3 linked regions of the Homo sapiens genome follow. The protein of the gene in region 1 purifies or fractionates together with the protein of each later gene. This does not show direct contact. Each region holds a gene or a part of one and is shown on either strand. Other genes may lie near its edges.

Evidence for each region.
Region 2: the proteins of DRD2 (region 1) and MSRA purify together in Homo sapiens (affinity purification with mass spectrometry; 2 studies listed by BioGRID and IntAct, with this or other methods). This does not show direct contact.
Region 3: the proteins of DRD2 (region 1) and COLEC12 purify together in Homo sapiens (affinity purification with mass spectrometry; 2 studies listed by BioGRID and IntAct, with this or other methods). This does not show direct contact.

What each region holds. Positions count from the first base shown.
Region 1 is NC_000011.10:113,471,929-113,480,481, reverse strand, and holds the start of DRD2 (D(2) dopamine receptor), read left to right. Parts: upstream 1-5,083; 5' UTR 5,084-5,406; intron 5,407-5,745; exon of another isoform or gene 5,746-6,252; intron 6,253-8,553. UniProt on the Homo sapiens protein: Dopamine receptor whose activity is mediated by G proteins which inhibit adenylyl cyclase. Positively regulates postnatal regression of retinal hyaloid vessels via suppression of VEGFR2/KDR activity, downstream of OPN5.
Region 2 is NC_000008.11:10,049,437-10,057,291, forward strand, and holds the start of MSRA (mitochondrial peptide methionine sulfoxide reductase isoform a precursor), read left to right. Parts: upstream 1-4,855; 5' UTR 4,856-5,080; coding exon 5,081-5,222; intron 5,223-7,855. UniProt on the Homo sapiens protein: Has an important function as a repair enzyme for proteins that have been inactivated by oxidation. Catalyzes the reversible oxidation-reduction of methionine sulfoxide in proteins to methionine.
Region 3 is NC_000018.10:497,362-505,159, reverse strand, and holds the start of COLEC12 (collectin-12), read left to right. Parts: upstream 1-4,458; 5' UTR 4,459-4,645; coding exon 4,646-4,652; intron 4,653-7,798. UniProt on the Homo sapiens protein: Scavenger receptor that displays several functions associated with host defense. Promotes binding and phagocytosis of Gram-positive, Gram-negative bacteria and yeast.

The sequences.
Region 1 (8,553 bases):
TTCAAGTGATCCTCCTGCCTCAGCCTCCCAACTAGCTGGGATTACAGGAGCCCACCACCATGCCCGGCTAATTTATTTTTAGTGGAGATGGGGTTTCACCATGTTGGCCAGGCTGGTCTCGAACTCCTGACCTCAGGTGATCCACCCACCTCGGCCTTCCAAAGTGCTGGGATTACAAGTATGAGCCACTGCGCATTTTAAGTGCATAGTTCAGTAGGATTAAGTACATTCATGTTGTGTAAGCATCACTACCGCTCCACTTTAGAGCCAGCCTCGATCTTCCAAAGTACCGGGATTACAGGCGTGAACCACCACGCATTTTAAGTGCATAGTTCAGTAGCATTAAGTACATTCATATTGTTGTGTAAGCATCACCACCACTCCACTTTAGAACATTCTTCATGTTCTCATACCGAAACCCCATACCCATCAAATATGTCCCCATTTGTCCCTGCCTCCAGCCTCTGGCCACCACCAATTCACTCTCTGTCTCTGTAGATTGACTCTAGATACCTCATATAAGTGGCATTGTACAGTATATGTCCTTTTGTAACTGGCTTATTTCACTTGGCACAATGTCTTCGAGATTCCATGAGGTAGCAGGTGTGAGAATTTCTCTCCTTTGTTAAGACCTAATAATATTCCTTTGCATGTAAATACCACATCTTGTTTATCCATGTTGATGGACACATGGCTTGTTTCCACCTTTTGGCTATTGTGCATAGTGCTGCTATGAACATAGGTGTGGAAATGAGGTGTATATTTTTATGACCTCTTCCCATCAAGCAATTAAATTTCTAATATGAATAATTGCACTCTGAGTTATCTGTTCTGTAACTCTGAAGAACTGTGTAACAGAATTTCTTAAAGTGAGTCATCCCTGTATTCTCTTTACTCTTTCAAAATAGGAGGCAGCAAAGAACAAATGTCCATTTCACACCCAGGTGGAAAGGCCCATTAGAGTCTACCAGTGAGGAAATCATTTTCTAAGGGTGATTACACACGCAGATGTCAAAACCCTCAGGTAACTCTCTGCTCTCCTGCCTTGGTTGGACAGTGCCCTGAACTTCTGTCCTTCTCAGAAGATTCTCCCCTTGCCCACCCTTCTCTGGGGTCTACCATCTCGACTACCTTCAGTCCCTTCCCTAGATTATCCTACATGGGGCTGTAGATCCCTCAATAACAACAATATCCAAGAATTCCACACCTCTCTAAGGTTTTCTGCATTTGAGGGATGTAATAAAGTACAAAAGAGATGATTTTTTTTTGCCCCATACTTCCTTTGACCCAGATAGATTGATGTTCTACTGCTCCCCAAGTCATTTGCAAATGGCACAAGAACTAAGACAAAAGAAGAGGATGAGAAAAGAGAAATTCCAAGAGCTTGGAAATGGGGGCTCAGTTTTTATCTACAAAGTGGGTTAAGAAATGGAGAACTGTAACACCATATAGAAGATGTCTATATTTCCTGCGTCACTTCTCCAGTTGAAGTTTTCTGTAAGGGGGGAAGACCCATGGAATATCAATATGTGTGGGCTGTCGTTCCCACTTATTCTTCATGATAGCACTGCAATGTGGCTCTCCATCCCCATTTCACAATCCAGAAAACTGAGCCCCGGAGCCATTCAGAATTTCCCAAGGTTGTGGAGTTTAGATGGGAACAAACTTCTGTGTGACTCCAGTGTTGCTACTGACATGACCCCGCTCTGCCTTCCCCACCTTTCAGATGAGAGCATTTCCCTTGTTTTCTGTGAGATGATTTTTAGAAGGGGACTGTGACAGTCTGTTCTCTCTGGGGGTACATCAGAGTTTGAAGGAGATCAGCAAGGGTCCCCCCTCTTTCTAAGCTGCAGCGAGCAGTTCTTGGAGCTCGGGAGGAAGTTCTAGCTCTCCCTTATTCTCTGTTGGCTTTCTCCTTTGTTTCTCTTACAATGGGCCAACAAAACCCCCATCTGTCCCTAACTCATTTCCTAGCCCTGCCTGAATGTCTTTGCTCCCCCCAATTCATATGTTGAAATCCTAAGCCCCAGGATTATAAAATTAGAAAGTGAGCCTGTAATCCCAGCACTTTGAGAGGCCAAGGCAGGCGGATCACCTGAGGTCAGGAGTTCGAGACCAGCCTGAGCAAAATGGAGAAACCCCATCTCTACTGAAAATACAAAATTAGCTGGGTATGGTGGCGCATACTTGTAATCCCAGCTACTCGGGAGGCTGAGGCAGAAGAATCACTTGAACCCGGGAGGCGGAGGTTGCGGTGAGCCAAGATAGCACCACTGCACTCTAGCCTAGGCAACAAGAGCAAAACTCTGTAAAAACAAAACAAAACAAAACAAAACACAAAACAAAACAAAGGGAAAGTGAGGCCTTTGGGCAGTGAGGAGGTCATGAGGACAGAAGAAGACACAGCCCTCATAAATAGGATGGATGAGTCCCCTTGTAAAAGAGGCCCAAGAGCACTCATCCACCCCTTCCACCATGTGTGAACACAGTGAGAAAGTACCATCTATGAAACAGAAAGCTGGCTCTCACCAGACGCCAACTCTGCCAGCACCTTAATATTGGACTTCCCAGCCTCCAGAACTGTGAGAAATAAATTCTGTTTGTAAACCACACAGTTTACAGTATTTTGTTATATTAATAGCATCCCAGATGGACTAAGACAACCCCTAATACCCACTACTACTTATTTCCTTACAACTTTCAACAATGAAAAGGGTAGAAATAAATGAAAGATTTAGGAGGTACATCAGGTGGAACTTCCTGACTCCAAGGAGGTAAAGAATTCAAAGAGGCTGTTGTAGATCCTTTTTCAGGAAAGCTATAAGGCAAAGGGACACCCTGCCCCCACCCCGCCCACTTGGACTGGGCACACTCCTGCCTAGAGGCAGGGGGAGGCACCAAACGACCTCCAGAGGGCCCTGCTAGCCCAGGAAGCTGGGAGCCTCTGGTGCAGCCGCTGCTTGGCCGCAGATGTTCCCTGTCATCAATCACACAGTGCATCTGTTTGCTGTGCCGCTTGTTTAAAGAGTGAGGCGTTTGCTAATTGAAAACTAAAAGATCCATCCGTCTCACTCACAGCCAGCATGAAATCCACTCAGCCATGTAAGATTGGGGTAAAAAAGGCAGCGCAGAGCTACAGTGTCCTTGGGTGGGTGCACCTTATGGAGCTCATCTTCTTCCTGCTTCTGCCTCCTGATGAACAGGGCTCCCCTCCCCACCCCAGAGCAGCCAGAGATGGCCCATATTACCATTGTCTAACATGTCCTCATCTATTTTTCTCAGTAAAGCTCAGAGATCGTTATTTTTAGTCCCCACTTAAAAATGGAGAAACTGAGACTTCGCGAGATCAAGCAATTTAGGCAAGCCCACACAACAGGTAGGTGACCAAGGCGGGACACCAATCCAGGTGCTCTGGCTAGTCTGACCCATCCCTGAACCTATGTAGAGGTGCTGAGTTGGGAGGTACCAAATATCTCCTTATGTGGATTAAACCTAGGAAAGAATGGTCCAAGGGTATACAAGGGAAACACTGGGATGTCAACCATATCTGTAATGGCTGATCCCTTAAAGGCAATTATGGCAACATTCTAGGACTCCTATTGGTGTAATATCTCCCTATAGAGCCTGCAGGCAAATGGAGGCCAGTCCAGATCAGCAAGATCCAGGGGCAGGAGCTGGGAAGAGTCATGGTGGGGTGAGGTGGGGAGCCCACAGCTTCCTCTGCTCCCGTGCCTCCAGAGATGGCTGCATTTGAGAGAGGTGCTGTTTTGTGCCTCTGGAGAGGGGGACGGTTCAGTGCTGGACTCTGTGGGATTTGCAAGGACACTCCATCTCTCTGGGACTCAGTTCTCCCTTCTGAGGTGAGGCGGAATTGGATGAATGTTAAGGTCCTTTCCAGCCCTCACTTTCTATAATTGTGTGTGTCATTGGAGGAAATGCTGAGATGAAGTTAATCCTTGTGGCCCAGAGAGGCTGGATTCCAGCCATGCAGGGCCGACTCCCTGCTCTGCAGAGTCAGTCCTCTGCCCCTGCTCTTCCCTCTCCCTGGAGTGTTGTGCCACCTTCTCCCCTTGGGAACTGGTGTTGCTCCTTCAATGCCCGGTTCCTGTAAAGTCTCGCTTTTTTGTGCTTCACAGCACCTGTTTAAGCCTCAGTTATTTCCCTGGGGGTCCCCTCTCTGGATTGCCAGGGTGCGGGATCAGGGGCCTGGTTTTCTTTCTGTGTGTGACTTCTGAATCTGACACAGAATCTGGCAAACTGAGGACAGTTGGTAACTAATTGCTGCAGAAGAAAGAAAAGAAAGAGAAAGAAAGAAAAAGAAAGGAAGGAAGAAAGAAAGAAAGAAAGGAAAGAAAGAAAGAGAAAGAAAGAAAGAAAGAAAGAAAGAAAGAAAGAAAGAAAGAAAGAAAGAAAGAAAAGAAAAGAAAAGAAAGAAAAGGAGAGAGGAAGAAAAGGGGAGAAGAACGAGGTTCCTCTGCAGCCCAAATGACAGTGGGCAGGGTAGCAGCGGAACACCCTTCACCACTCTATCTCTTTCTCCCTCTCCCCACTCCCTGCCTCACACACCTCAGTTTGGAGTCAAGGGTGAGCTGGAACCCCTGAGGCCTCCTTTTGCATTTCCATGTCAGGTCAACTCCAAACAGGCTTTTTCCTTTGGATGAGTCCAGCAATAGAACTGACTACATAGATTCCAAGACCTGAAGTCAGAAAACGGATGCGGACCTCTTCCAACACCTCCTCTCCTTGCCTGACTTGCTGGATGGGTGGTGCCTCCCGCAACCCTTGGCTTCTGAGTCCTCAAAGGAGAAGACTGGCGAGCAGACGGTGAGGACCCAGCCTGCAATCACAGCTTATTACTCTGGGTGTGGGTGGGAGCGCAGTGGGCGGTCGAGGGTTGCGTTCCCGCCTCAAAACAAGGGATGGCGGAATCCCCCAACCCCTCCTACCCGTTCAGGCCGGGGATCGCCGAGGAGGTACAGCTCCTTTGGTGGGGGGCGGGGGCGGGGCCTGTCTCAGGGGCGGGGACCGGGGCACCTCCCTCCCGCGCTCCCCGCGCTCGGGCGCCGCAGAGCTGTCCAGCTTCAGTGCCGAACCGGCAGCCTCACGCGCGCACCGCGCCGCCTCCGCCCCGTCCCCGCGCTCCCTCCTGCCCGCCCGCCCCGCGCCCGGCCCCGCCCCGCCCCGCCCCGCCGCGGCCCGTCCACTGCTCCCCGCGGGCCAGAGCCGGCCGAGCTGCTGCCCGCCGGGGCTCTGAACGGCGCGGCGGGGCCGGGAGCCAGGGACCGGCCGAGGAGAGTGGCGGCCCCGGACGGCTGCCGGAGGGGCGGCCGCGCGTGGATGCGGCGGGAGCTGGAAGCCTCAAGCAGCCGGCGCCGTCTCTGCCCCCGGGCGCCCTATGGCTTGAAGGTAAGCACCGGCCGGATGGAGCGGCGGGCGACTCAGTGTCACGGGGAGAGGAGGAGGGACCTCCAAGGGGAGCGAGGCCAGGACCAGAAGTTTGTGCGGCCACTCCTGGCCGCCTGCTCGGGAGCGCCCGCCTGGGATCCGGCTCTGCATGGGCTCCCCGTCGGGCGGGGGCAGAGGGCGTCTGGAGCCCGCGGCTGCTATCCCCTCTCCCTCCTTCTCAGTAGCCTCCTCGCCACTTAGAAGGGAATCCTCTCCCCGAGCACGAGCGGGCGCAGCTGGGGCAGCCTCCCCGCGGGGCGCCCAGGGCAGCACGGCGGAGCCGCGGCATCGGAGGGCGGGAGGGAGGCCGCTCCCCACAATCTCGGGAGGGCACTTCCCCCAGCACCCAAGCGCGAGACCCGGGGCTCGCGGCCAGAGTTTCCGACTTCTTCCGGAGGAAGAAGGGCTGTTTTTGGCAACTCTGTGTTGGTGCGACCTGACCCTTTTCAGTTTCTAAGGCAGAAGCTAAGGATGGGGGAGAGGCAGATTCTGGCTGGATTCTCCCGCTCCCACGGTTGCCGCTGTCCTTGGTCCTGAACTTTCGTTCTCCTTCGCCTTCTCTTGGGTTGACACCTAGTCGGGGAGGGAGGCTTGGGTGCCAGACCCGTTTCTACCCGGCAGTGCAGGCGACGGTGGCGGCAGTAGCGGAGGGTGACCGCCCGGCTCTCGGCCCGGCTCTATGATGGACCGAGAGCCCCTCTAGGGTGGTATGCGGAGACAAGAGACACCTCTAAGCACCAGACAGAGCGCTTCCCTATCCCTGTCTGAGGCGGGCAGCCCTTGAGTGCTTCCTCTTGAAGAGCAGAGGTAAGAGGGTGCGTGTGCGTCTACATAACAGGCTTCACCATGGACACAAGTCACAGCAGTGCAGCTCCGTGGGGACAGGCGCTTGCTCTCAGCCACAAGGAAGCTGTCTGAGCAAGTCACTGTTGCCCCACCTGACACCCCACTACTTTTTTTTCGGTGGCTCTTGAGGTTGGGTGAGGGGGTGAGGGAGTGAGGTGCAAGGCACTTTGTGGATCCCACTCCAGATCCTTCTGCAGATCCAAGCCTTTCTGTATTTTGACCAGGCTACAAACCTTTTAGGCCAATCCTTGCTCCTCCTTAGGGAGCTAGATGTTCAACGATTCTCCCCACTCCCACCCTGCTTCAAATGCAAATATGCATGCTTATCTCTGATTCATCCTGCAGCATTAGGACCACTTGAAAAAGAAATCATGCTTATCGTCTTTCCCTCATGCAGCTGTTTGATGAGGGTGGCCAGATAGAGAGACTGTGGTCAGCATGACCAGTTTCAAGAAAATCAGCAAGCTGCTTTCCTGGGTTTCAGTCCCTGCCTTGGACTTCCCTCCTTAGTGTTCAAAATTCCTGGATTATTTGTTGCAGGGGGTTTTGATGCCATCTCTGAATGCAGACATCTGACAAGGAAGTGGTTTGGGAGGGTTAGACCTAGAACCAAATGAGGGCCAGGGTAGTCCCAGCTCTTAAAGATCATTGAGTTCCTTCTACCTTCCCTGCACAGCCTGAGGTGCCCAGAAAGTGGAGAGGTTCTGATTTGTTGTAGAAGTCCGGGCAGCATTTCTCTAAGGGTTTTTTTCTTTTTAATGAATTCCCTGAGAAGCTGGTTAAAAATGCGTATTTTTGCTTCTTCCTTGAAAAACTGCTGAATGAGAATCTCAAGCGGAGGCCCAGGAAATTTATATTTTAACAATGTTTCTGAGTGATTCATGTGTACACTGAATTAGCAAATTACCTCCCAAAAAGTTGAGACTCCTTAGAGAGTCTGTATACATTTATTTTATTTTGAAAATGGAAATCAAGTTTATTTTACATAAAATTGGTAGCAGGTATTCTATCTGAGAAAATCCCTTGAAGATATAAAAATGCATTTCTAAGAGTTAAAAGAATCATGTACCTTGGCAACCATTTGCTGATATCTTAAATATTCCTAAATTTCATACATTTGAAATTTATAAAATTAAGGTATTTAATCTCACCCTTTGTCTCCTGCTGTTATACCTGTTAAATTCTTCAAGTGTGAGACTCTTGGTAGAAAGACCATCCCCCTGATTAAATCTTTGCTGAAATTAAGGATGCAATCCAATCTCCTCTCCCCCAGGATCTTCCTGGGCTTTTCTTCTTTCTAAAATTTTTGGCCCTTTTAAGGAATCACCAATATGGCTTCAGGTTGACTTATGTAAATACTAACTGTCCCTCTATGGGGGTCAACTCAGTGTTTCCCTCCTGCCCTCCCCTCTGGGTGAGTTATTGTCTTTCATTATGCATGTGCTGTGATCTGTTAACCTAAGTGCTCCTGAAATGCCAAGGAGTGATTAGTTCAGCCTAGTAGCACGTCATGCTCCCCAAGGCTGGTAGCCACTCATGCCCTGCTGGAAGTGACATATTGACTGTATTGATTTGGTTCTTTTGTTCCATAAGCAAGGAGGCTTGTAGGGGTAAAAAGGCTAGTAATGATGCTTGTGGGCTAGTTAGTCTTGTACCTTCACCTACAAAGGTGGATTATTTCTGTCTAGAAAATGCAATTATCTTGAGAATGATATAGGAGAATCTGAAATTGAGACAAACGCTTCTGTTCTTTCTTTGATACTATGGGAAACAAATGGGAACTTAGGGTCATTAGAAATATGGCCTCACATACTCCTGAGATTGTCTTGCTGAAGCCGGACTGGTCTGGGGTCACCATTCTCTGAATAAACAAGTATAAGGGGAAAGACGTGGGGACTCTGCCTGGAGAGAATGGTTTCCATCTCCCCTGCAAGTAAAAGTTACATTTTAGTGTTAACAAAAAAGTGTGGCTGTGAAGATAGCACTGTGTGTATGTGTATGTGTTTGTGTGTGTTTGCATACACGTGCATGCACACATATGAGCACATCGCCCAGGAGAGACAGATATGATGAGACTTCCTTGAGCCAATCCTGTGTTGGCACCCACCACTTCTCCCCGCTTTGTGGCTTAATACCTATGAATCTCCAACAGTGAAGGTGCCTCAACACCTAGGAAGAGAGAAGAATCAAGTTGAGGTTTTATAATGCCAGAACCCTAAGTCATATTTGTAATATCTCCCAGAATCAAGTTATATATCAGCA
Region 2 (7,855 bases), on another chromosome or scaffold:
TCTAGAGGCATGTTTATTGAGGGCCAGGATATTGGGTGTGGGTTCCACCAGAACAATAAATCTCAAAGTTTGCTGCCTGGACCAGCAGCGTCAGCATCACCTAGGAATTTGTCAGAAATGCAAAGTTTCAGGGCTAACTCAAACTACTTGATCAGAAACTCTAGGATGGGACCAGGCAATCTGTTTTAATAAACCCTCCATGTGATTCTGGTGTATGCCGATGTCTAAGAACCATTGAGCCACTCAAAACCCTAGTGGCTTACACACAATAAAAGCTCCATTTCTCACTGTCTCAGTCTATCAGGCTGCTATAAAAGAGTCCCACAGACTGGGCAGTTTAGAAACAACAGAAGAGTTTTGAAGTTTAGAAGCCACTGAACTGCCTTTGCACCTTGGTTGAAAATAAACTGACCATGTGTGTGCAAGGTTTTTTTTTTTTTTTTTTTTAACTGTTTTGTTCCATTAACCTATGTCTCTTGTGGTCAACACCACACTTTCCTGGATATCATAGCTTTATAGCAAATCTTGAACTCAGGTAGCCTCCTGCTGTCCTATGGAGGTGGAGGGAGGGAGGATGGGAAGACCTATGAGTACTGACTCAAAGTGGAGAAATGTCTTAACAACTCTCCTGCACCCTGTCCCCCAATACAGAGGCCTCCAAATGAAGGTTTCTGGGCTCAAAATGCAGATATAATGATAAGCATGGCTGGCCTGGGGTAAGGCCTGAGTCCTTGACTGCAACTTCCTTCAGAGACTGCAGTTCACTGCCTGTGCTCTACATCTGGTGTGAGTAGGGCAGCTTTCCCCTCTAAGGTCTGCTAGGCAAAGCCTTTACAATTGCCATGGTCAGCCGTGATTTTGGACTGGAACTGGACTTCTCAGTTTTTGGCTGTAGTAGGTCCTCTGCATTTGCATCTGAGTTTTAGAATAAGCTTGCCAATTTCTACTAAAAAACCTGCTGGAATTTTCATTGAGACAGTGTTGAATCTATAGGTCATTTTGGAGAGCACTGGCATTTAACAATACTGAGGCTTCGGATCCACCTACATGGTATAGCTCCACATTTATTTAGGTCTTTTACATTTCTCTTAGCAATGTTTTGCGGTTTTGATGTGCAGGTCTAACATATCTTCAGTCAGATACAAATTTTAAATATTTTTGATGTTAATAAATAAGTAGTATTTTTAAAATTTTGATTTCCATTATTTTGTCTTATAGAAATACGATTTTTGCATATAGATTTTGTAGCTGCAATGTTGCTAAACCAGTATTAGCTCCAGATTTTCTGTAGAGACCATGACATTAACCTAAATTATGTGGTATTAATTAACTGACAGGCAGCACAGGTATTACAGGTGAAAAGCTGGTGACCAAGCCCCTCCTTTTTTTTTTCCCCCGCCACAAGACATTTGATAAAATTGTCAACTCAGTACCTTAGCAGGCAGACTACCTGCTCTTTGAATCTGTAGTAGCAGGGAAAATGGTTGGGAGTGAATCTCTGGGTCAGTGAGACAGTACTGCCTTCTTCCTGTCTCTTTAGCAAAGTACTTTGAGAAAGATGAACTCAGGTAAAAACTAGTCATTTTGTTAACAGAGCTGGAAGGAAATAAAGTCATACTAAGATGGAGTTCTCTGCCTGTAGTCTGCAATACAAATTGACTGAGTGGTGATTTCAAGCCTTCTAGTTCTGATAAAGCCAAAAGCTATTACACTTCTGACAGTGTAAGATAAAACTGTGACCCAAGGCACTTCTCAAAGGCCATCAGCAAAGTGTTCTCTGCTGGACAGTGGAACCCAGACAAGCAATAGAGGTCATATTAAGGGCACTGCCTTCCTAACCATGACTGCTGTTTTTGCTGGGTGCAAGCATATAGCCACTAAGTTAGTAGGTACAGGAGATATGAGAGAGTCTCGTAAATAAAAATGAAGAGTAGTTAGGCATAAGAAATATGACTAATTGAGATCTCTATCTGTGGTTATTTGTAAAAGGAACTATACAAGGAACAAACAGATAAGAAATCCATTCGGTATCTTTTAAAAATTGAATTGACAAAGAAGCTATTAAGCCTAGCTTGCCAATGCCTGTGTCTATCTGACCCTACTAAAGTAACCCACAGTCCCTCAAAAGCGCACCAGTAAGAAACTGGATATAAAAAGATGTGTAGCCTCTCATGGAGCACACTCTTTAGCATGCCCTTCAGATGGAATCATAGATCATGGGTAAGAACCTCCCAATGGGTAAAGACAGTACCTTTGGATGCAACAAACCAGAGTTCCTCCTGGAAAACAGAACTGGGGTCTAACCAAGAATTTACTTCATTACCTTTGTAGTCTAATCTGCTCTTCACATTCGCTTAGACAAAGAACTACTATTTTGTCCTCACTCTTCTTCCAAATTAGTTTTCGTGCCCTACTTCACCACTGCATACTGGCTGTGTGGGGAAGAGAAAGGGGAATAAATAACATAATTTACTCTGTAGGTCATTGGACCATGAGGAGTTATATCAGACTTGTAAGGGACTGTTACATCTTTAGATCATGGACGCTGAGCTGGATGCAGTAACTGCTTAGAATGCTGGGTTTTCTCTCTTCAAACAGGGTGTGTTCTATGTGTCACAAGGGTATCCATGGATATTTGAGGGGCCAGAGGAGTAGATTGTGTCACAGTTGTCCAAAGAACATTCCTGTTTTATTATTAGAACTGCCAAATATCCAAGTATTAGTTGTATCTATAGTCACTCCGCAAGAGAACCTCATCTCCCACCTTCCCAAGTTAGATGTGGCTGTCAGATCAACAGCGACATTAGATTCTCATCAGAGGACAAACCCTATCGTGAACTGTGCATGTGAGGGATCTAGGCTGCACACACCTCATGAGAAGCTAACTAATGCCTGATGATCTGAGGTGGAACAGTTTCACCCCGAAACCATCCCCCATCTCCCCTTCCCCATCTGTGGAAAAAAACTGTCTTCCACGAAACTCGTCCACGGTGCCAAAAAGGTGGGGGACCGCTGGATTAGGGGGAATGTCTGAAGAAAAGGAAGTCCTAGTGGTGAAAAAGGCACCACTGAAGGCAAAAATGTTCAATTCTTTCCTCAAAACACCAAAGAAACTAATATAACTTTTCTTGCAGCTATTCTGGTAAACGAAAAACCCTTGTTTTTGAAATAAGATATATCTGTTCTTTAAAAATGCTTATTCTTTTATAATTATAAAAGTAACAGCCATTGGAATACTCGAGAACGTTGTAACAATACAGAACACTTAAAACAGTTTAAAGACAATGAAAAGCAGTAGAATCCCACTATTCTGAACAAAAAAAATTGCATTTTTTTCGAATTGTTCAGTGGCTGTGCAACTGGGAGTACATGCATTTTCATATATACTACATGTATACACGCACACTGCATTTGTTTTACTTTTTCATTTAACATCAAAATTAATTTTTTTTTTTTGAGACAAGGTCTTGCTCTGTTGCCCGGGCTGGAGCACAGCAGTGTGATCATAGCTCACTGCAGCCTCTACCTCTCTGGCTCCAGCGTTCCTCCTGGTGCAGCCTCCCAAGTAGTTGGGACCACAGGTGTGCGCTACCACACCACCATGCCCAACTACTTAAATACCTTTTTTTTTTTTTTTTTTGGTAAAGATGGCGTCTCAAACTCCTGGCCTCCAGCAATCCTCCTGCCTCAGCCTCTCAAAGTGTTGGGATTACAGGAGTGAGCCATCATGCCAAGTAAGTTATTTCTTCACACTAAACATTCTTCAGCTCTTAGTTGCAGAGTATTTCTAGCATGTGAAACTTCATACAATCAACCACAAAACACAGACAAATCAGTATGTATCAAAAAGAAGTAACTGAAAAACACAAAATATTGTCTTTGACAGAATGACTATTTTTTCAGACCCTTAATAGTGACCAGGCCTTCGCAAGCCTAGAAGGGACTCCTGGGGGTGTTTTCATGAAAGGCCTGTGGAACCGACTTGGTATAGCCTCATAGCAATAACAAACAGTTTAGGTATCATTTTGTCCAGGGGAAATACAAATTACAAAATCAAAGCTAGAGCCTTTTTAGTGTTGTATGCCTGGCAACACACCTCATTCTACACTATAGCACTGCTAAGCCTCCTGCCCTCCTTACAGTCCAGACCACATGAAAACAAAGTGGTAACTAAATCCATGCAAGAAGCTGGGTGAAAGCCTCCTTTCTGTGGGTGCTAATCTGAAGTTCCCTCCCTCATCTGAGACGACCTGCCCATTTTGGCAGAACATGTGTTAAGCCAAAATCTCACACAGATGAACTCCCAAGTCACTCACCTCGCTCCAACCACTTTACATTTAGTTTGAGAATGTCACAGGAACAAATGTCATCTCCTATGATTTGAGAAACAAGAATAATACAACACCACCATTAAGTCCACCTACACTGCCTTAATGGTGCTGTTGGTGCCTTGCTCCCGTATTTTGGCCGCTGCAAAATGGGCTTAAATATGTTTGTAAATACATAACTTAATATTGAATTCATCTTCCCTATTCCGCGCATTTTGAGAACTGTGCTTAGTTTTCACTTTGGACGAATAGCAACCCTTCTGATGGCCGTCATGACAATGTCTCCAATAAAAACTGACAGTCTAGCTGGCTGCAAGGCAGGTCCTCTTCTATCTTACTGGGCACTGCTAAACTGCGAAGTCGGGGCGACACGGCAGCAACTTTAAAATCAAACCGCATCCCCAAGGGCTCGGCGTGTTTTTTGGCCTCTGCAGCTTCACGTACTTCGTACGACAGGAGCGCACTTGTTCTCTGTCCGAGAACTTCGTCCCGAGAGAACCTCAGGAACTCGCCGGGCCACACCCCCTGTCCAGGGAAGGAACACGCCCCCGGTGACAGCCGGTACGGCCCCGGGTTTGGGCAACCTCGATTACGGGCGGCCTCCAGCCCCGCCAGCAGCGCCCCGCGCCCGCCCGCCCGCGCCCCTGCCGCCCCCCGGTTCCGGCCGCGGACCCCACTCTCTGCCGTTCCGGCTGCGGCTCCGCTGCCGGTAGCGCCGTCCCCCGGGACCACCCTTCGGCTGGCGCCCTCCCATGCTCTCGGCCACCCGGAGGGCTTGCCAGCTCCTCCTCCTCCACAGCCTCTTTCCCGTCCCGAGGATGGGCAACTCGGCCTCGAACATCGTCAGCCCCCAGGAGGCCTTGCCGGGCCGGAAGGAACAGACCCCTGTAGCGGGTAAGCACTGGCCACACGGAAGGCGCGGGCGGCGACGCTGCGCATGCGCGCCTTTGCCCGGCGGCAGCGCGCCCGCTGCCCGGAAGGAAGCCGTGGGCTGGCCTCGGGCGGGTCGCGGGGTGGGGGTCTGCGCAGGCGCGAAGGGGCGCCGGCAGTGGCCGGGGAGACGCTGGGGTCCACTGACGTCCCTTTGTCTTTGTTTGGCTCGTCATCTTCTGGAGCCAAACTGGGCATTCTGAAGGAATCTAGTGCATCGGTCTCACTTACCCGGAGTGCATACCGTCGCGGCCCCAAGTTTTGGGCAGGAAATGTGCCGCTGGGGTCTGGCCTTGCTCGCGGGCGCCCGCGGCGCTGTGCCTGCGCCCTCCTTTCTTGTCTCCTCTGCGCCGGCCGCCGGGACCCAGGGCACCTGCAGCGGGGCTGGTGCGAGTGTTGTCCCGGGAAATGCCGGAATGAGACGAGACGATGAAAACCTTAAGTGTGGAACTGCGTCTCAGGCCAGTGTTCTGGCTGAGTCACCCCTAGTCACCCCTCGTGCCCTAGGTCGGCCCCGCTGTCCCCAGGGGCAGGGGCTGCCGTATGCTGGGTCAGCTTAAAGCGATGCTCCACAAACTTGGACAACTTTCTAGTCGTTCTCACATCAGTACTTTGGGAAAATACAATAAGGGTGAAATACTAGAAAAATGTTCACGTGCTTCGATGCCATGTAATGGTAAACTGCTATAAAAGTTTTCAAAATCTTGGCAATTTCTGCTGCAGACAGCACGCGTTTCCCAGAACGAGGGCCACACGTTAATATTACCTTAGTGCAGCGCTTCTCAGAGTGCCCCCACCTGCCGCAGCAGCAGCAGCATCACCACCTGGGTGGGCGTTCCCCCATTACTGAATCGGAGACTCTGGGGGTGGAGCCCAACAATCTCTAAAACAAGTCCTCCAGGTGATTGTAATGTACGCTGTAGCTTGTAAACCACTGCCTTAGAGCTGTTGGAGGATTAAGTGATGTTTAATCTACACATGGCTCAATGCCAGAGAAATTCAGCATTTAAAAAATTTCCTTAGAAGTTTCTTTTTCTTTTCCTTCAAGAATTGTTGAGGATAGGAGGAGGTCATATTGAGAGTTTGTCATCTCGTAGAATAATCAGTATGAGATTAGAAAAGGTAGAGGTTTTTTGGATTAGAGGCAGTTTAGAAATCGTGTGACTGGCTTATTATTAATCGAATTAGCAGTTTCTGTTTCCTGGTTTCCCCATCATTTCACCTGCTACTCAGCCGTAAAAGTTTATTTTTGATTCAAATGCAGAGATTGAGTTTTGAAACAAATCTAGATTAGTAAACATCTATACTTATATATAGATTTATAAAATATAACCAGATTATCTAAAACTTATAAATGCATCTTAAAATTTTTTCTTTCTTTTACAGGCAGGAATTTATACGTGCATGTTTAAAGGCGATACTTTTCAAATGCCAGACTTCCTCAGCTTGTGCTATACTTCCCGTTCACACACTGCCGTGTCTTTGCTATGCCCTCCCATACACCAAAAAAAAAAAAAAAAAAAAAAACCCCAAATAATCCAAAAACTCTTGTTCAGATTTCCAAACTGGTTCAAGGTCAAGATGGACCAAAATTTACTTTGGCTTTATCTTAACCAAAGTCTTCCCAATCAGTTTCCTAATATGTAAATGACATTTTTGGTAAAAGATGAGCAAACATTTCAGAAATGAGCCAACAATTTTTTTCTTATCCCCATCATAACTTTTAACTGCAAAACCTCAGGACCTGGTTCTTTTCCAGGCTCTGCTGTCTCCATATAGCTGTGAGTGTTTTTGGTACACCAACACATCTCTGTATCTGGGCCAGTAAACTTTTTTTTTTTTTTTTTGGTGTAGGGCCAAGCCTACAATGCATATGTCCTTATTGTTCATCTATTGTAACTTTTTCCACAAAAAGTGTGTGAAATTTAGATTGTGGACGTTCCAGTCTCCACTTCTGAGCCTTGAGAGGTTGCTGAAAGCCCTGACTGGCTCCAGAAATGGGCAGTGTTACCTCTTCAGTGGGTTTCAGTAGCTGTAAACTTGAAACTTAAGGATTTAGTATTGTTCTGAATGTGGAATTCACCTCCACTGCAACTTGGATCCTGTTTAACAACTCCTCCCTTCTCTATATTACCTCCATCCATGTCTGTTCTTATTTGTACCCTGACCCTCAAAAGTTGCGTGACAAAAGCATCACCTTTTGACTGCAGAAGGCCTGTTTCTTTAGTGCGTTTAGATAAGCCTAGTATCAGGTGTGTACCATTACCAAATACTTGAGGTGTTAAGGATTACCATCTTAGCGTTCATCCTACCATTTTTATATTCTTAAGGACAATTCCACCCTTTTACACACTGTGACCAAGATTTCCACCTTGCAAGAAGGAAAGAGTCAAACCTTCAAAGTTTTTCAGTGTTTAATTTATCCCAGGCTACCTAAAATGGATGAAAACATGAACAGGCCTACTTGGGTGAGTGGTGAAAACTGAACCTGCCCTGGACTGCCTCATTTGCAGCCTGCTGTGTTCAGGTTAGGGGGCATCTGGGCAGTGCTGGCTGGCTGGTAGGGCACACGGCAATGTGTCTTGCCCTGTATGTGG
Region 3 (7,798 bases), on another chromosome or scaffold:
GTTCAGCTTGTTTGTTTCCCATCTCTCATCTGTCCTTCGTGGCTGCTCTGGCTGCTGTGTGTTGGAGCCTGGAGTGGAGAAGGTGCCAAGGTGGGCGTGGGGAGGCCCTTTGGAAGGTTAGTGCAGCAGCTCAGATGGGCTATGATGGCCTCTACATGGGGGATGCAGTGGAGATGGAGAGACAGAGAAGTTTGAGATGTATTTCTAAGGTAGAAGCAGGGCTTGGTGAGGATGTAGAGTTGAGGGAGAGGGAGGAGTCAAGGGTGATTGGGCTTTTTCATCAGTATAAAGGTGATACTAGCATGGGGCTGGGGTGAGGGGAAGATGAGATGATGCTTCCTCCAGATTCTGAAACTTTAGTCTGAATGCAAGGCCTGGCTGCTGCTTCTGGGGGTGGGGAAGCTTGCCTGTGACCTGGAGGACCTGCAGGCCATCTTTGAGTTCAAAGCATCTTCAGCTCCATGGCTCAGTCCTTTCCAATCACATTCTTCTCTTCTTTCCTTTTCCCTTCTTTTCTCCCTGATCCCCAGCTCAATTCTCAATTCCTCCCAGAGCTCTTGACCAGAGAAATCCTGATCAGCTGATGATCTGCATGTGACCATGACCTTCCGTCTTCATATCCTCCAGAGTGGGGCTCAGAGGAGGCTCCACACTGAGGACCTGTGGGGCCCAACTCACTCTGTGCTGAAGGTGACAGGGTGGGGGGAGGAAGGCACTCATCCAGGATTCCTTCTTTTTTTAGAGATGGGTTTCACTCTGTTGCCCAGGCTGGAGTACAGTGGCATGATCCTAGCTCACTGCAGCCTCAAACTCTTGGGCCTAAGCAATCCTCCTGCCTCAGCCTGATGAGTAGCTGGGACTACAGATGCATGCCACCACACCCAGCTGATTTTTAAATTTTTTGTCTCACTATGTTGCCCAGGCTGGTCTTGAATTCATGGCCTCAAGTGACCTTCCTTCCCTGGCTTCCCAAAGCCCCGGGATGAGCCACCGCACCTGGTCCCAGGACTGTTCCTTAAAATTATCCTTAGAAAAGTTGCTAAGCCTGTTTTCTCATCAGTAGATCTATGAATCTGGCTCATTATCACAGCTGACATCATAGCCTTAGGGGTTTCTTGTTTGTTTTTTACCTTATCATTCTTCTGTTTGAATTTTTTTATTGTAGTCAAATATATATATTTATCATCTTAGCTATTTTTCAGTGTATAGTTCAGTGGCTTTAAGTATATTCACATTGTTGTGCAACCATCACCACCATCCATCTCCAGAATTCTTTTCATCCTGCCAAATGGAATCTTTGTGCCTGTGAAACAACTCCCCATCCCCCCCCCGGCAACCACCATTCTACTTTCTATCCCTATGCATTTTACTCTCTCTCTCTCTCTCTTTTTTTTTTTTTTTTTTTGAGATGGAGTCTCACTCTGTCGCCCAGGCTGGAGTGCAGTGGCGCGATCTCGGCTCACTGCAACCTCTGCCTCCGGGTTCAAGCGATTCTTCCACCTCAGCCTCCCAAGTAGGTGGGACTACAGGTGCCAGCCACCATGCCTGGCTAATTTTCGTATATTTAGTAGAGACAGGGGTTTCAGTATGTTGGCGAGGCTGGTCTCAAACTCCCGACCTCGTGATTGACCTGCCTTGGCCTCCCAAACTGCTGGGATTACAGGCGTGAGCCACCACGTCTGGCGGCATTTTACTCTCTTTTATAAGTAGAATCATATTGGTCCTTTTGTGACTGGCTTATTTCACAAAGCATAATGCCTCAAGTTTTATCCGTGTTGTAGCATGTGTTAGAATTTCCTCCCTTTTAAAGACTGAATCATATTCCACTGTATGGCTATACCATATTTTGTTTATCCATTCATTCAACAGTGAACACTAGGTTGTTCCACCTTTTGGCTATTGTGAGTAATGTTGCTATGAGCCTGGATGTACATCTATTTGTTACCCTGCTTTCACCTCTTTTGGGTCCCAGAAATAGAATTCCTGGACTATATGGTAATTGTGTGTTTAATTTTTGGAGAAATCACCATACTGTTTTCCATAGTGGCTGTACCATTTTACATTCCCACCAGCAATGCACAAAAGTTCTAATTTCTCCGCATCCTCGCCAACACTTATTTTGTTTTGTTTTTTTTTTTAAATAGCCATCTTACTGGGTATGAAGTAGTAGCTCATTGCGGTTGATTCAAATTTCCCTGACAATTAGTGATTGAATATCCTTCATGTACTTATTGGCCATTATATGTCTTCTGTGGAGAAATGTCCATGTCAGTCCTTGGTTCATTTTCAAATTGGGTTGCCTGTTTTGTTGTTGTTGCTGAGGTGCAGGAATCCTTTATATATCCTGGATATTAATCCTGTATCAGATATAGGGCTTTTGCACATATTTTCTCCTATTCTGTGGGTTGGCTTTCCACTCTGTTTATACTGGCCTTTGAGGCACAAAAGTCTGATGAAGTACAATTTATCTATATTTTTTCTTTTGCTGCCTGTACTTTTGGTGTCATATTCATAATTTGGGTTTTAAAAACGATTTTTTTTTTTCGGCAGGGCGTGGTGGCTCACGCCTGTAATCCCAGCTCTTTGTGAGGCTGATGCCTGCGGATCGCTTGAGGTACGGTTTGCGAGCAGCCTGGCCACCATGGTGAAACCCCGTCTCTACTAAAAATACAAAAATTAGCTGGGCTTGGTGGCCCACCCCTGTAGTCCCAGCTACTTGGGAGGCTGAGGTGGGAGAATTGCTTGAATTCAGGAGGCAGAGGTTGTAGTGAGCCAAGATTGTGCCTGGGCGACAGAGTGAGATTCCGTCTCAAAAAAAAAAAAAAAAAAAAAGAAAGAAAGAAAAAAAAGAAAGCCGGGCGCGGTGGCTCACGCCTGTAACCCCAACACTTTGGGAGGCAGAGGTGGGCGGATCACGAGGTCAGGAGTTCGAGACCAGCCTGGCCAACATAGTGAAACCCCGTCTCTACTAAAAACACAAAAAAATTAGCTGGGCCTGGTGGCACACGCATGTAATCCCAGCTACTCGGGAGGCCGAGGCAGGAGAATCGCTTGAACCCGGGAGGTGGAGGTTGCAGTGAGCCGAGGTCACGCCATTGGTTAGTAAACTCCGGGCTGAAAATTCATATCCTAAGCTCCCTTCAGGGATCCCCATTTGCCCTGAAAGACAAGGCTGGTGCCCCAGTGAGATCTGAAACATGCTCCAGGACCAGGACCCTGTAGTTTCATCAACTGCAGACAGTGCGGGGGAAAAAGCATTTCGGTCTTTTCATTTGTTCGTCATGTTCAAGGTGCCCCCTTATGTTAAAAAATTAAAAAAAAAAAAAAAGAAAGAAAAAAGAAATCTCCTGGAACGGAGAATCTATGAAATGTTTCAATATGTATTCATTTTGGGGCACTACCTTTTACTAGAGCAAAGAATCCCCTACTTAGAGGGAACCAATGGATTGGTTACACCGTGTTACCAAGTCCTCAGGAGGGCAAACTGAAAAGCTGCAAGCACTGCCCGGCCAGTGTTCGATTGCTTTTGGTGGACTAGTGCGTCTGAGTAGCCATCTGTAATGTCAACATGTGGCAGAAAGTTTCTCCGCACCTCCCTCGCCCCAGCTCCACTCACCACTTAGTGTATGTTTTAAAGCAATAAAGCGATGGGTCTGCTTAGAGGGGGTTCTAAAGAGAAAGATAAACACGGGCTTTATTAAGTATACAGCAGGGCAATGTGACGGGCGACCACGAAGGGAACTCAGGGAGCCTCTCAGCAGCCCGGCCTCCTTTCGTAACAAAACTGGAGTCAACCCGATCATTTTAGGGGCGCTGGGTGGAAGGCTGGCTTTTCCAGCCAAGGCAGGATGTGCTGGCTTTTTCTCTGGAGGTGTCCAAGAGCGCAGAGAGAGTGTCTAATGGTGACTTCGGATTCTGGCCACTCGGGCTCTCCCTGGGTGACAGAGAGAGTGTTCCCTGCTGCTTGGTCTCCTTCAGGCGTCAACCAGCGCACGCACTTGGAAACTCTGAACCCGGAGGACGTTCTGTACCTCTCCATGCCCCAGAGCCGTTTGGGGAAGGGCCCACCTTACCCCCCGCCACCCCCGGGGCACAGCAGCTCCCCATCCTCTCGCCCAACACTTGCTAGGTAGTTTGGGGTGTAGAAGCGACCCCAGCAGCAGCGGCACCTTAGGTGCTCGCCGAAGGTGAACGCTGGACCGCCCCGGGAAGGGCTTTGCTCCCGACTTCATCCCGACGCTGGTGCAACGGGAAAAAGAGAGAGCCCGCGCGAGTGGGGCCAGGGCGCGCAGGAGAGGGCGGGCGAGAAAGTGCCCGGCGAGGGCAGGCGCGGGCCGAGGGCGGGGCGGGCGCGGGAGGGCGCGAGAGGGGCGTGGGCGCGGCCGCTCGCTCGGCCGGGTCGGGCCAGGGGGAGGGGCGCTGGGAGAGCGAGAGCGGCGCGCGCGGCAGCCCCGAGGCAGCAGAGCGCGGAGCCGGGAGCGCGGGGAGCGCGGGCCGGCGGCGGCGAGGGAGGACGGGGGCGCAGACGGCCGGCGCGCGGCGCGGCTACCATGGGCGTGCGGTGAGCAGCCGCTCGGGACGACTTCCTCGGCTGCGCGGCGCTCGCGCGGAGCTCCCCGGCCGGCGGTGCGTCCCCACGGTCACCATGAAAGGTAGGGCGGCGGCAGCTCCGCGGGGCTCTGGGCGGGGGGAACGGGCTTCGGGGCGCGCGGGAGGCCACGGAGGTGCCTCCCGCGCGAACCTTCCCTTGGGCTGCGGGCCCGGGGAGTCGGGGCTGCCAGGGCGCCGGGTTCGTGCGCGGACACTGGGGGCGCACCCGGCTCCCGGGTCAGGCGCGGCTGGAGACCTCGAGGTTGGGGTTTTGAAGCGCGCAAGTATTCCCCTCCCCATCGCGTCTTTGCAAGTAGTTTGAAGCCCTAAGTCGTTGTTTACGGATTCCCGTTTCCAACTTTTTAATTGAAAAAACCTGCCGAGGAGAGTGGAGGCATCGCCATCCCTCCCGGTCGCTTTTCCACGCCGCAGCGCTCCCCACGCTCGCCCAGTCCTCTCTCCTCCCGCCTCTAGCCGTTTCCCGGCCCGAGCGGTCCCCGCGCTGGCGGCCGGGTGTTTTCTCCGGGACTGGGGATGTTCTCCGTGCGCCCTCGCCACATCTGGCAATGATTAGGTGCCCGAGGAGTTCAGCTGGCTCGGGAAGTGCATTTGGCATCTTTCTCCATCAGATTCACCGACTGGAAAATAGTTGCCCTCGGTTCCGCGTCCCTTCCACGTGCCCGCCTTGGGGTGTGCCCACTGGTGTTTTGGGGTGACACACCTCAGCTGGTTAGTCGCCCCCTGCGCGGTGTCCTCTGCAGGCCGGTTTATGGAAGTGTCAGATGTTATCGTACTTTAGAAAGAAGCACGAGAAGGACTGCAGGGCAGCCTTCTGTTTAGTGGAAACACGGAGATTTGTCAGCGGAATCCTGATTTATGTATGAGATAAGTAACCGCAGCGGAGGCATCAAAGAGTCGTTCAGGAATGGGCCCGCGTGGTGTTTACACAAGGCTTCGTGTGAGAGTTGCTGGTTCTGTGCTAGGATAACACAGCCCTGCGTGGGTGCGAAATGCCATCTGACCGCGGTCACCCCGCTTCCAGCCGCCACAGACCTGGCGATGCAATCGCTTTGACTTCTAGGGTTGCCGTCCGAGGGAGGCGCCCGGGAAGCCCCAAGGCGCTTGGAAAGTAACTTTTGGCTCTGGAAAGTTTTTTTTCTGAAGGGCAGCTCCCGCGGAACTAACCGGAGCGATGATATCCTACCAATTCACTCCCTTTCCAAGGGCGTTAGGTGTCCACGTCGGGAGACCTCGGGAAGGGAGGTGACTGATGGCCAGGTGAAAAGTGGTCTGCCCCAGGGAAAAAGAAACAAAAGACACGATACAACTGCCTACCTAGAGAATTTCAAAATGCAGTGGCTTGCTTTCCTTCTGTCTCCATCTCAGTTTCTCTTCCCTCATTTACATTCTAGGAAATACACACATTCCTTAGCTGGCTCTGATTGAGGAGACTCCCTAGAAAGGAAAGAATTTCACATGGCTAAAAGTTATCTGGGGCTCAGTTATCATTTTAGCCAGAAGTGAATCTTCTCTGCTGGTCATTAAGACCAGTGGTTTTTAAAACTTGGGAAGATTAACCACCTACCCACTCCATCAGCTCCCACGTGGGTTCTTAAACCCTGAAACTTTTGTTATGCTTTTTACTGGGTAAAGGACCGCTATTGCACTTGAGACACTTTTCCACTTTACATTTGCACTGGAAAACATACCCAGAAGTCCTAAACACATTTTTGGAGAGATTTATGCTGCATTCTGGACCAGATGGTGGCCTACCCGCTGTGGTCTAGCGCTGCCCAGAAGCCCCATACACTTTCCGCCCCAGTCGGGGAGGTTGATGGAGGGACGGACTGGTGAATCCCCGGGTAGACTAATCATTTTGAAGCCCTCTTTTAAAAACGAAAATATTCCAGCGGGGCGCGGTGGCTCACACCTGTAATCCCAGCACTTTGGGAGGCCGAGGTGGGCAAGATCACTCGAAGTCAGGAGTTCGAGACCAGCCTGGCCAACATTGTGAAATCCTGTCTTTACTAAAAATACAAAAAATTAGCTGGGCGTGGTGGCAGGCACCTGTAATCCCAGCTACTTGAGAGGCTGAGGCAGGAGAATCACTTGAACCCAGGAGATGGAGGTTGCAGTGAGCCGAGATCGAGCCATTGCACTCCAGCCTGGGTGACAAGAGCGAGACTCCGTCTAAAAAAAAAAAAAAGAAAAAAAATATTCCATGAGAGTTTTGCCTACCAATTATTACCACGTAATCTGTATTTATTACATTTGTCTGAGTGGTGGGGTGGGGACGGGAGGGGCAGTAATAATTTTTTAGTACCTACTAAGTGCCAGCCACTGTACTATATACACTACAAACACATTGCAATTAATCCTCTCAACAGCCCTGAGAGTAGACATTTCAATCCTAACAGTATAGGTATGAAAACTGAGTCTAGAAGAAATAGGAACTGGCAACTAGGAGGATAGAGTAGGCATCTAAAGACAAGCCTTGTCAGTTACCCCGTGTGGCTTGGAAGGCCCTAAGACACCAAATAGATAACCTCTGGTGAAGATGACTGGAAAAAAAAGTGAATCTGAGACAACTAACTAGCCAAGTAACCCACAATTGGTGCTGTATCCAGGAAGAGGTGGAGCCAACCAGTTGCATGTGAGGCTTTGGAAGCCTAGACAAAAACGGAAAGCTGCTTTTACCAAGTGGAATTGTTTTGACCATTTGCCATAGGGAACCAACTAAAGATTTTCCCCGGGTTCCTGATTACATCAAATAGTTGTTAACTCCCCGTGCTTCAGAAAGCCAACATGATAGAAAGCAACGACAAGCCTTGTAAATTCTTAGAATAAACGTGTTAATCTAAAACATTCTTGGCCAGGTGCAGTGGCTCATGCCTGTAATCCCAGCACTTTGGGAGGCTGAGGCAGGCGGATCACCATATAGTGAAACCAGCCTGGCCAACATGTAATGAAACCCTGTCTCTACTAAAAAATACAAAAATTATCTGGGCCTGGTGGCGCATGCCTGTAGTCCCAGCTACTTGGGAAGCTGAGGCAGGAGAATAGCTTGAACCCGGGAGGTGGAGGTTGCAATGAGCCGAGATCGTGCCACTGCACTTCAGCGCAGGTGACAGAAGCAAGACTCTCTCAAACACACACACACACACACACACACACACACACACACACCCCATTCTTTAGCCAAATTGAA